2 linked regions of the Homo sapiens genome follow. The protein of the gene in region 1 interacts with the protein of each later gene in a pairwise test. Each region holds a gene or a part of one and is shown on either strand. Other genes may lie near its edges.

What was found.
Region 2: the proteins of TRIM23 (region 1) and PITX1 interact in binary tests that used the Homo sapiens proteins (3 or more experiments, as listed by UniProt).

What each region holds. Positions count from the first base shown.
Region 1 is NC_000005.10:65,593,334-65,596,833, forward strand, and holds part of TRIM23 (E3 ubiquitin-protein ligase TRIM23), read right to left. Parts: intron 3,199-3,500; coding exon 3,088-3,198; intron 1,313-3,087; coding exon 1,188-1,312; intron 1-1,187.
Region 2 is NC_000005.10:135,027,234-135,031,228, forward strand, and holds the end of PITX1 (pituitary homeobox 1), read right to left. Parts: intron 2,089-3,995; coding exon 1,546-2,088; 3' UTR 501-1,545; downstream 1-500. UniProt on the Homo sapiens protein: Sequence-specific transcription factor that binds gene promoters and activates their transcription. May play a role in the development of anterior structures, and in particular, the brain and facies and in specifying the identity or structure of hindlimb.

The DNA of each region.
Region 1 (3,500 bases):
CTGAGGCAGAAGAATCGCTTGAACCTAGGAGGGGGAGGTTGCAGTGAGCAGAGGTTGTGCCACTGCACTCCAGCCTGGTGACAGAGCAAGACTCAGTCTCAAAATAATAATAGTAACAGTTGTATATAAGTCTGAGGATTATAAAACACTTTCATCTTTAACTATCTGATGAGCAGAAAATGGTATTTCACTGACTTATTTGCATGTCTTAAATATACCAGTTCTTAATAGTTTGCCTTTTTTATTAAGGGGAAAATTCTTTATTCTTCATCCTACTCTTCCCCTCCCATGACATCTCCTCTGCTCCACTTCTACTCTCCTTCTGCCTCTACTTAAAAGCATCTCATCCTCCTAGAAAGGCTCAAGGTCTAGGAATCTTCAGCTACTCCCAGTCCTTCATCCTCCCCATTCAGTCACCAGTTCTGCCTCAAAGTCTTTTCCATCTGCCTCCGCCTTTCTATTCCTCTAATTCAGGCTCTTGTTAATGCTCACTTGAATTATTTAAGCAATTTACTGCATCTCCCTGTCTCCAGTCCTTTGCCCTGATTCATTCTACCCCTAGAATTATAGTATTGAAACACTGATATGATCTTATTACCCACTAATCCAACATTTTGATGACTCCTCCTTGCTCATAGAATAAAACCTAAATTTCTCAGTCTAGCACTGTCAGACCTTTACAGCATGGCCTTGTCTGTTATTCTAAATTCTCTTCATCCTCTACTGAGACCTGACATATAGATCTGCTTGATGTTCCCTAAACTAAAAACATTCATGCTATTATCTTCTCTGTCTATAATGTTCTTCCTTTCACATACTGACTCAGCCTCATGCATAATTTCAACTCAAATTCTACATTTTACAATCTTACAACATGCCACATTTAGAACTACTTTCCTAATTCCCGTAACACTGTGTTACTTAAGTTACTTATCAGTCTTCTTCGTATTCAGATCTCTTATGTGTTCATATGCATACACAGGAGTTTCTGGTGAGCATTAACTACCTTATTTCTATTTTGTATACTCCCAGGTACCCAGCACAGCATTTTCACATAGATTGTACTCAAAATACACAGAAGAAACTATAAATATCTATTGAACTGATTGTCTTCTGAAATATTTCCAGTTGCCTTTTGACATGCACAAAACTACTAAAATAAATATTCCAATATAAAAATGCATTACCTGTTTGTTAGCAAAAATCAGGAGCAGAGCATCTCGGAGTTCTTTTTCCGTTAACAACTTTGCAAGTTCGCTGTGTGCTTCACTAATTCTGTCTCTATGACTGCTATCTACAACAAACACAACAGCTACCCAAAAAAAAATAAAAAAAACAAAAATAGTCACTTGCTAAAGTTCAGTAAATGAACCAAATATTTAATGATATCATTATTATGTTATGGTTAGAGTTTGTCTACCATCATTATTTTCACACAGAGGGTGCCTAGTATGGCAGGGGCACCTACAAATAATTAACAGTATGATTTCAAGTAGTTTACATAACTTCTCAGGTTTAGTTTCCCCATCTAGGAAAGGATTTACAACACTTGCTCTATCAAATGCAAATTGGTCTGTATATCAAATAACTTTTTACATAACGAATTTCAAAATATGCCTCATGATCCTCTACCTATGGATGCTACTTGTTCTTCGAATACTACTTTTCTAATATTTAGTCTTTGAATAAAAGACTAAAAGATAAAAACCATCACCATTTTTATTTCTCCAAAGTATTATGTCTAAGTTAACTATCTCCAGACTTTCAACCATTCCTCATATTCAAAATTTCATTTTTGTAGGGCACAGTGGCTCACACCTATAATCCCAGCACTTTGGGAGGCTGAGGTGAGAGGATCACTTGAGCCCAGGAGTTCGAGACCCCTGGGCAATATAGTGAGACCTTATCTCTATTAAAAAAAAATTAAAAATTAGCTGAATGTGGCCGGGCGCGGTGGCTCGTGCCTCTAATCCCAGCACTTTGGGAGGCCAAGACGGGCGGATCACGAGGTCAGGAGATGGAGACCATCCTGGCTAACATGGTGAAACCCCGTCTCTACTAAAAATACAAAAAAATTAGCCAGGCATGGTGGTGGGCACCTGTAGTCCCAGCTACTCAGGAGGCTGAGGCAGGAGAATGGCGTGAACCTGGGAGGCGGAGCTTGCAGTGAGCCGAGATCGCACCACTGCACTCCATCCTGGGCGACAGAGCAAGACTCGATCTCAAAAAAAAAAAAAAAAAAAAATTAGCTGAATGTGGTGGCATATACCTAGTCCTAACTACTTGGGAAGTTAAGGTGGGAAGATTGCTTGAGCCCAGGAGACAGAGGTGACCATGAAATGCAATCATGCCACTGTACTCCTGCCTGGGCAACAAAGCAAGATTCTGTCTCAAAAAAAAAATACATTTTTTCTATTAATTATGGCTCATAATAATATCAAAAATCCCAAAGTAAAAATAATTATTCAGTCTCTCATCTTGGTGGAAAGCAGAATAACATACAGAATAAGCGGCATGAGCGTAAGCATTATGTTGGGGTCTATGAGGCAGAAGTGTAGAGTAAGACCCAAATGTGACTAAAACCTATGTAGAGTATAGATATGATATAATACGGTTTGGTCAAAAGCAAGCTACTGTAAGTTCTTCTGCAGGTAATAACTATTTGTGAAAGAAATGTGGGAGTGGGGCTATAGTGAGATTATAATGGGATAAATGTTGAGTTTAACTGAATTCAGCAGAATCATACAACATAAATTCAACTCTATACCACTACGCTACCAGCAGTCACACCCATATAATACTGGTAATATACACTCTCTGTTAAGAGAAGCAAGAGTACTCTTAACTGACTACATATCTAAGCTACGTATGGTTTTTATTCTGTAATAATGGTATATCAGGAATAAACTAAAAGTATATATCCTAATCTTTCTACTTTCATTTTTTACAAGTTAAGAAACTGGCCACAGGTACTTAAGTATACAGTCAACGACTTAATCATAAGTATCAGCTTTGCTAGTTAAATCAGTACACTGAAAACTGTCATCCTAAAAATGTGAAAAATTAAATGTCATTTTTAACTCTCACCTTGAGTATTGAGGTAATAATGTTTCCACAATGGTCTTAATTTGTGTTTTCCACCTACATCCCAAATAGTGAATTTTAGATTTTTATATTCTACAGTTTCCACGTTAAAACCTGTTTTAAAAAAAAAGTTACTTTTATACTATATTTGTATTTACAATGAATGACATATCAAACACAGACAACCCCCAGTTTATAACTGTGACTTATCAAATTATCTACATGCAGCAATATCTACTGAAGCCTAATCAACCCCATTCCTACTCCTACGTGGTGAATGTATACCTGTAACAGCTCCTAGCCCTCTAAACCTCCACCAAGGTCCTTAGGACCTTGGGATCCATGTACCTTCCAGCTCTGTTCCACAACTACCCCCCACCCCACACCCTCAGCCAGGATCACCAATCCTCTATTCC
Region 2 (3,995 bases), about 69 Mb from region 1:
ATCCAGCCCCCTCAGTCCTCCTGGAATAGCCTGGCCCTGGCTCCGAGGAGAGAAGAGGGGCTGTTGCTGGGCCCACAGAAGAAAAGGCAACCCCAGGCATAAAGAGGCTCTCAGCAGCCCCTGCCCGAACGCTCCTGGCAGGCAAGGGCCCCATAGCACCCTGGGGCCTCGAGGGTCACCGCAGACCCGGCCTGGGAAGAAACCCGTAGAGTCCCGCAGCCGCGGAGGGAGGGGGTTCTCGCTAAGGCGTCCCGCGGACAACGCCGAGAGGCACAGCTTAGCGGGTGCGCACCGGACAGGCTCGCAACGCAGGACGGTGCCCTCATGGGAGCCAGGCTGAGCAGGTCAAGAATGGTGGTGGGGAAGCGGGGTAGGCAGACCTCGGCGGGGGCTGCCTCGGCGCTCTGCTCCTACCCAAGGGGCCCGGTTCCCTTTCTACCCACAGTTCCCTTTCTATCCGCCTCCCTCCTCAGCCCAATGAAGCAGTCGGGGCTCAGCAGTGCTTAGCACGCTCGGACTATGGTTTTAATAGACGTACATGGACAAGTCGATATAGACAGATTTATTACAGTCAGTCCAACATACACAGGGACGCTGTAAACAGGGGCGCGGGCCGGAGAGCGGGTGTGCAAAGTGGGCGCAGGGCCCTGGGGCCGCGCCCCTTGCTCTGCCGGCTCGACTCTTGCACGGCGGGCGGTGAGGAGGGGGCTGTTCGCCCAGACAGAGGGCCACCTCCTAGCCCGGGAGCAGAGCAGAGGGCCTGGGCCTGCAGCTAAGCTCAAGGCTGGGGTGTTCTGAGATGGACCTCCCCCACCTCCCGCCAGGCCCGCACTGCCCGCTGTCGCTCCGTGGCCTTAATATAGGGCTCCGGGGCGCGGGGCCAGCGAGGCTCTACCAGGCGCGCCGGGGCCGTGTGCGGCTCCACTGAGTGCCCGATCCTGGGCTGGGGGCACCGTCCCCCCAAACCCAACGCCCGCCCCAACACGGATCCGACTCGAGCTAAGGCGCTCTCGGCCGGGCCTAGCTCGGAGAGGGCAACTTGGTTTGTACGGGGTCGGGAAATCCTAGGCAAGTCCAGGCCCCGCACATCCAGTCCGCAGGCCCGGCCACTCAGTCCGGATCCAGCGCGGCGGGGACGCGGGATACGAGGTCGTCCTCCCCCGGCCGCTGGGCCTCGGCGCTCGCCTACCGCGCCGCGTGCCCTCCGCGGAGTGGGCCTCCGGGGCCCGTGGGAACACACACACCACCCGCGCCATCCCGAGAGAAATTGCAACTCATCCATTTTTTCGCGGCACTTTTCTCCGACGTCTTTTTGCTTTTTTTTTTTTTTTTTTTTTTTTGTCTTTTTGGAGGGCAGAGTGGGGTCCGGAAAAGCAAACACAAAACCAACCCGGAGTGGGAAGTGGGAGGAGGGGGCTGCGCAGGTGTGAGGTCCGCGGCGCGGTGAGCTGGGGCTTGCGAGCCGGGGCCCCGCGTGCGTCCTCCGCGCCCGCGCCCGCGCCCTTCCCCGCTCCGGCCGCCGGCCCGCGTGGTGCGGCGGGGCGGTCAGCTGTTGTACTGGCACGCGTTGAGGCCCGAGGCCGGGCCCTGCAGGCCGCCGTAGCCAAACGACGAGTGCTGTTTGGACTTGAGCCGCAGGCTGGCTAGGCTCGAGTTGCACGTGTCCCGGTAGACGCTGTAGGGCGAGGCGGGAGTGCCGTACGGGCAAGCGCCCGGCGACATGGCCGAGTTGAGCGAGGAGCCGGTGAGGTTGTTGATGTTGTTGAGGCCCGAGTTGGGCATGCCAGGCACGGCGCCTGGGCCCATGCTGGACGGCATGGTCATGGAGGAGATGGAGCTGGGTGCTGAGAACATGGACTGCGACGACAGCGGGCTCATGGAGTTGAAGAAGGTGAAGCTCTTGGTGGAGAGCGGCGCTGGCGCCAGGCTCTTGGCGGCCCAGTTGTTGTAGGAGTAGCCGGCGGCGTACACGTCCTCGTAGGGCTGCACTAGGCCGCTGAACTGCGGCACGTAGCCACCCTTGCACAGGTCCAGCTGCTGGTTACGCTCGCGCTTACGCCACTTGGCTCGCCGGTTCTTGAACCAGACCTGGGGGAGGGGACGGGAGAAGGGTCAGGGCCGCTGCGGGCCGGGAGGGACCCCACCCCCTTCCCCACCGCCTGGAGCCTTCCGTCGGCCCGCTGCCCTCCGAACGTCGTTTCTCTCCTTCGACCGATATTTCCGCTCCTGCATTCCCTCCACAATGGTTCCTTTCCTGTCCCCAGAAAATACTAATTTCTTTTTCCGATCTTTATCCTCTCCCGAAATTATATCCGTTTTCTTCTCCGAATACGGATTCTCGTTTAACAGATATTCGTTTTCTTTCTTCCTCTCTCAACCAGTTCACCTCTGCCTTCTCCCCCAAACAGGTTCGCTCTATCTACTAAATATTTCAGTCTTTTTATTCTCCCTCAAATACAAAAGGTATTTTTCCTCCCTGAGACATAGGACTTTCCGACTCCCCCAATTCTTCGATCTATTTCATCGCTCAAATAGTTTGTTATCATCTTTATCGGCAATATTTGATGTTTTCTTTTTGGCTCCAAATGTTTATTTTCGTTCAGTCCACCCCACTGTCTGAACCTCTTTCTTCTCCCTCAGTCTGTTTTCTTGTTTATCCCCCATTTTTGATCCTTTTGAATCGTCCTCAAATATTAGGCTTTTGAATCCTTTCCAAATATCTGACCTGCACTGTTCCCCTTAAACAGTTGATTCTTTTTCTCAAATACCTGATCTTTTTGCTTCCTATTTAATTTCTTTCCTGCCGCCTAAATATATGCCAAATATGTTTCTCCACAAATATTTAAATTTTTTCTATTCTTACTAGATTCTTCTAATCTTCCTGCCCTTCCTTTTCTCCCCCCAAATTTGGTAAGAACCTCCTAGTCCTCCCCCATCCTTACCTATCTGCCTACCGCATGCCCTCTGCCCACTCGGATTTTCCTCCAGTTCTGAGTGGAGTTTCCTGAGCTAGTTTGCCAGATCCCTGCTTCTCAGCTTTCCCTAGTCCCCAGCACTGACACTACCTGATTCCACCCCCACCCACCCCTACCACCATAAACCTGGGCAGGATTAGTGAGTTCAGGATTACTGAGTGCTGTGTCTTCATTCCAAGTCCCACTGGGCTGGCCAGCCTGCCTAGGGAGGGGTGAGGGCTGGGGTTATGGTAAGGAGTCTGTGGGCCAGCTGGGATTTTGGTCGACTTGGGAGGTGCTCCCAATATCTGATTAAATATTTACGCCCCCAGGGAAGAAATGATTCTCTTGCTACCCTGGCAGGAAAGCCTTGCTTTTACTGGAAACCAAACGGGTGAGAAGAGGGAGAATGCAGGCTGGTCTTGGGTCTGAGATGGCATATCCTAAAAGGGACTGGGAAGGACATTTGGCTCCCGGAGCCACCCCCCACCTCACCTGACGGGAGACCTTCCGGAAAGGGCAGAAGGCAAAGGGTCCTACTGATGGCTGGGGAGGGTGGAGAATATCTTGAGCTTTTAGAGAATCTGCTTATGAGATGGGACCACTGCTCCAGGAAGTTTTGAGAGCCCCAAACCCAGGCACCTTTCAGGCTTCTCCGAGGCAGCCAGACAGGACCTGCCTTTCCCTTTCGTTTTCGGGATAAGGCCAACAGCTCCCGAGGTCCCCAGCGGCAGGGAATCCACTGCCCAGTCTCTGGCCCAGGGTATCCTGCTAACATCTGAGTGGGTCCTGGGCCCCATAGGGCATGGGGGAGTCCCCTGGGGGCACAGGTCTTTGGGCTGGGGTTGCCTTAGTCCGAGGATCAGGTAGGATGAGGGTCAAAGGGGTTGAAGGTCCGAGGCGCCTGGAGGCCTGGCAGACGCTAGTGGGCCAGGGCCTAAGGTGGGGATCTCCGGTGGAGGGAGGGAGCAGGTCTGAATGGTGGGAGAGTGAAGTTCTGCTTGTGGGTCTAAGCTTTGGAGGGCTGCAGCAGAGGCGGCC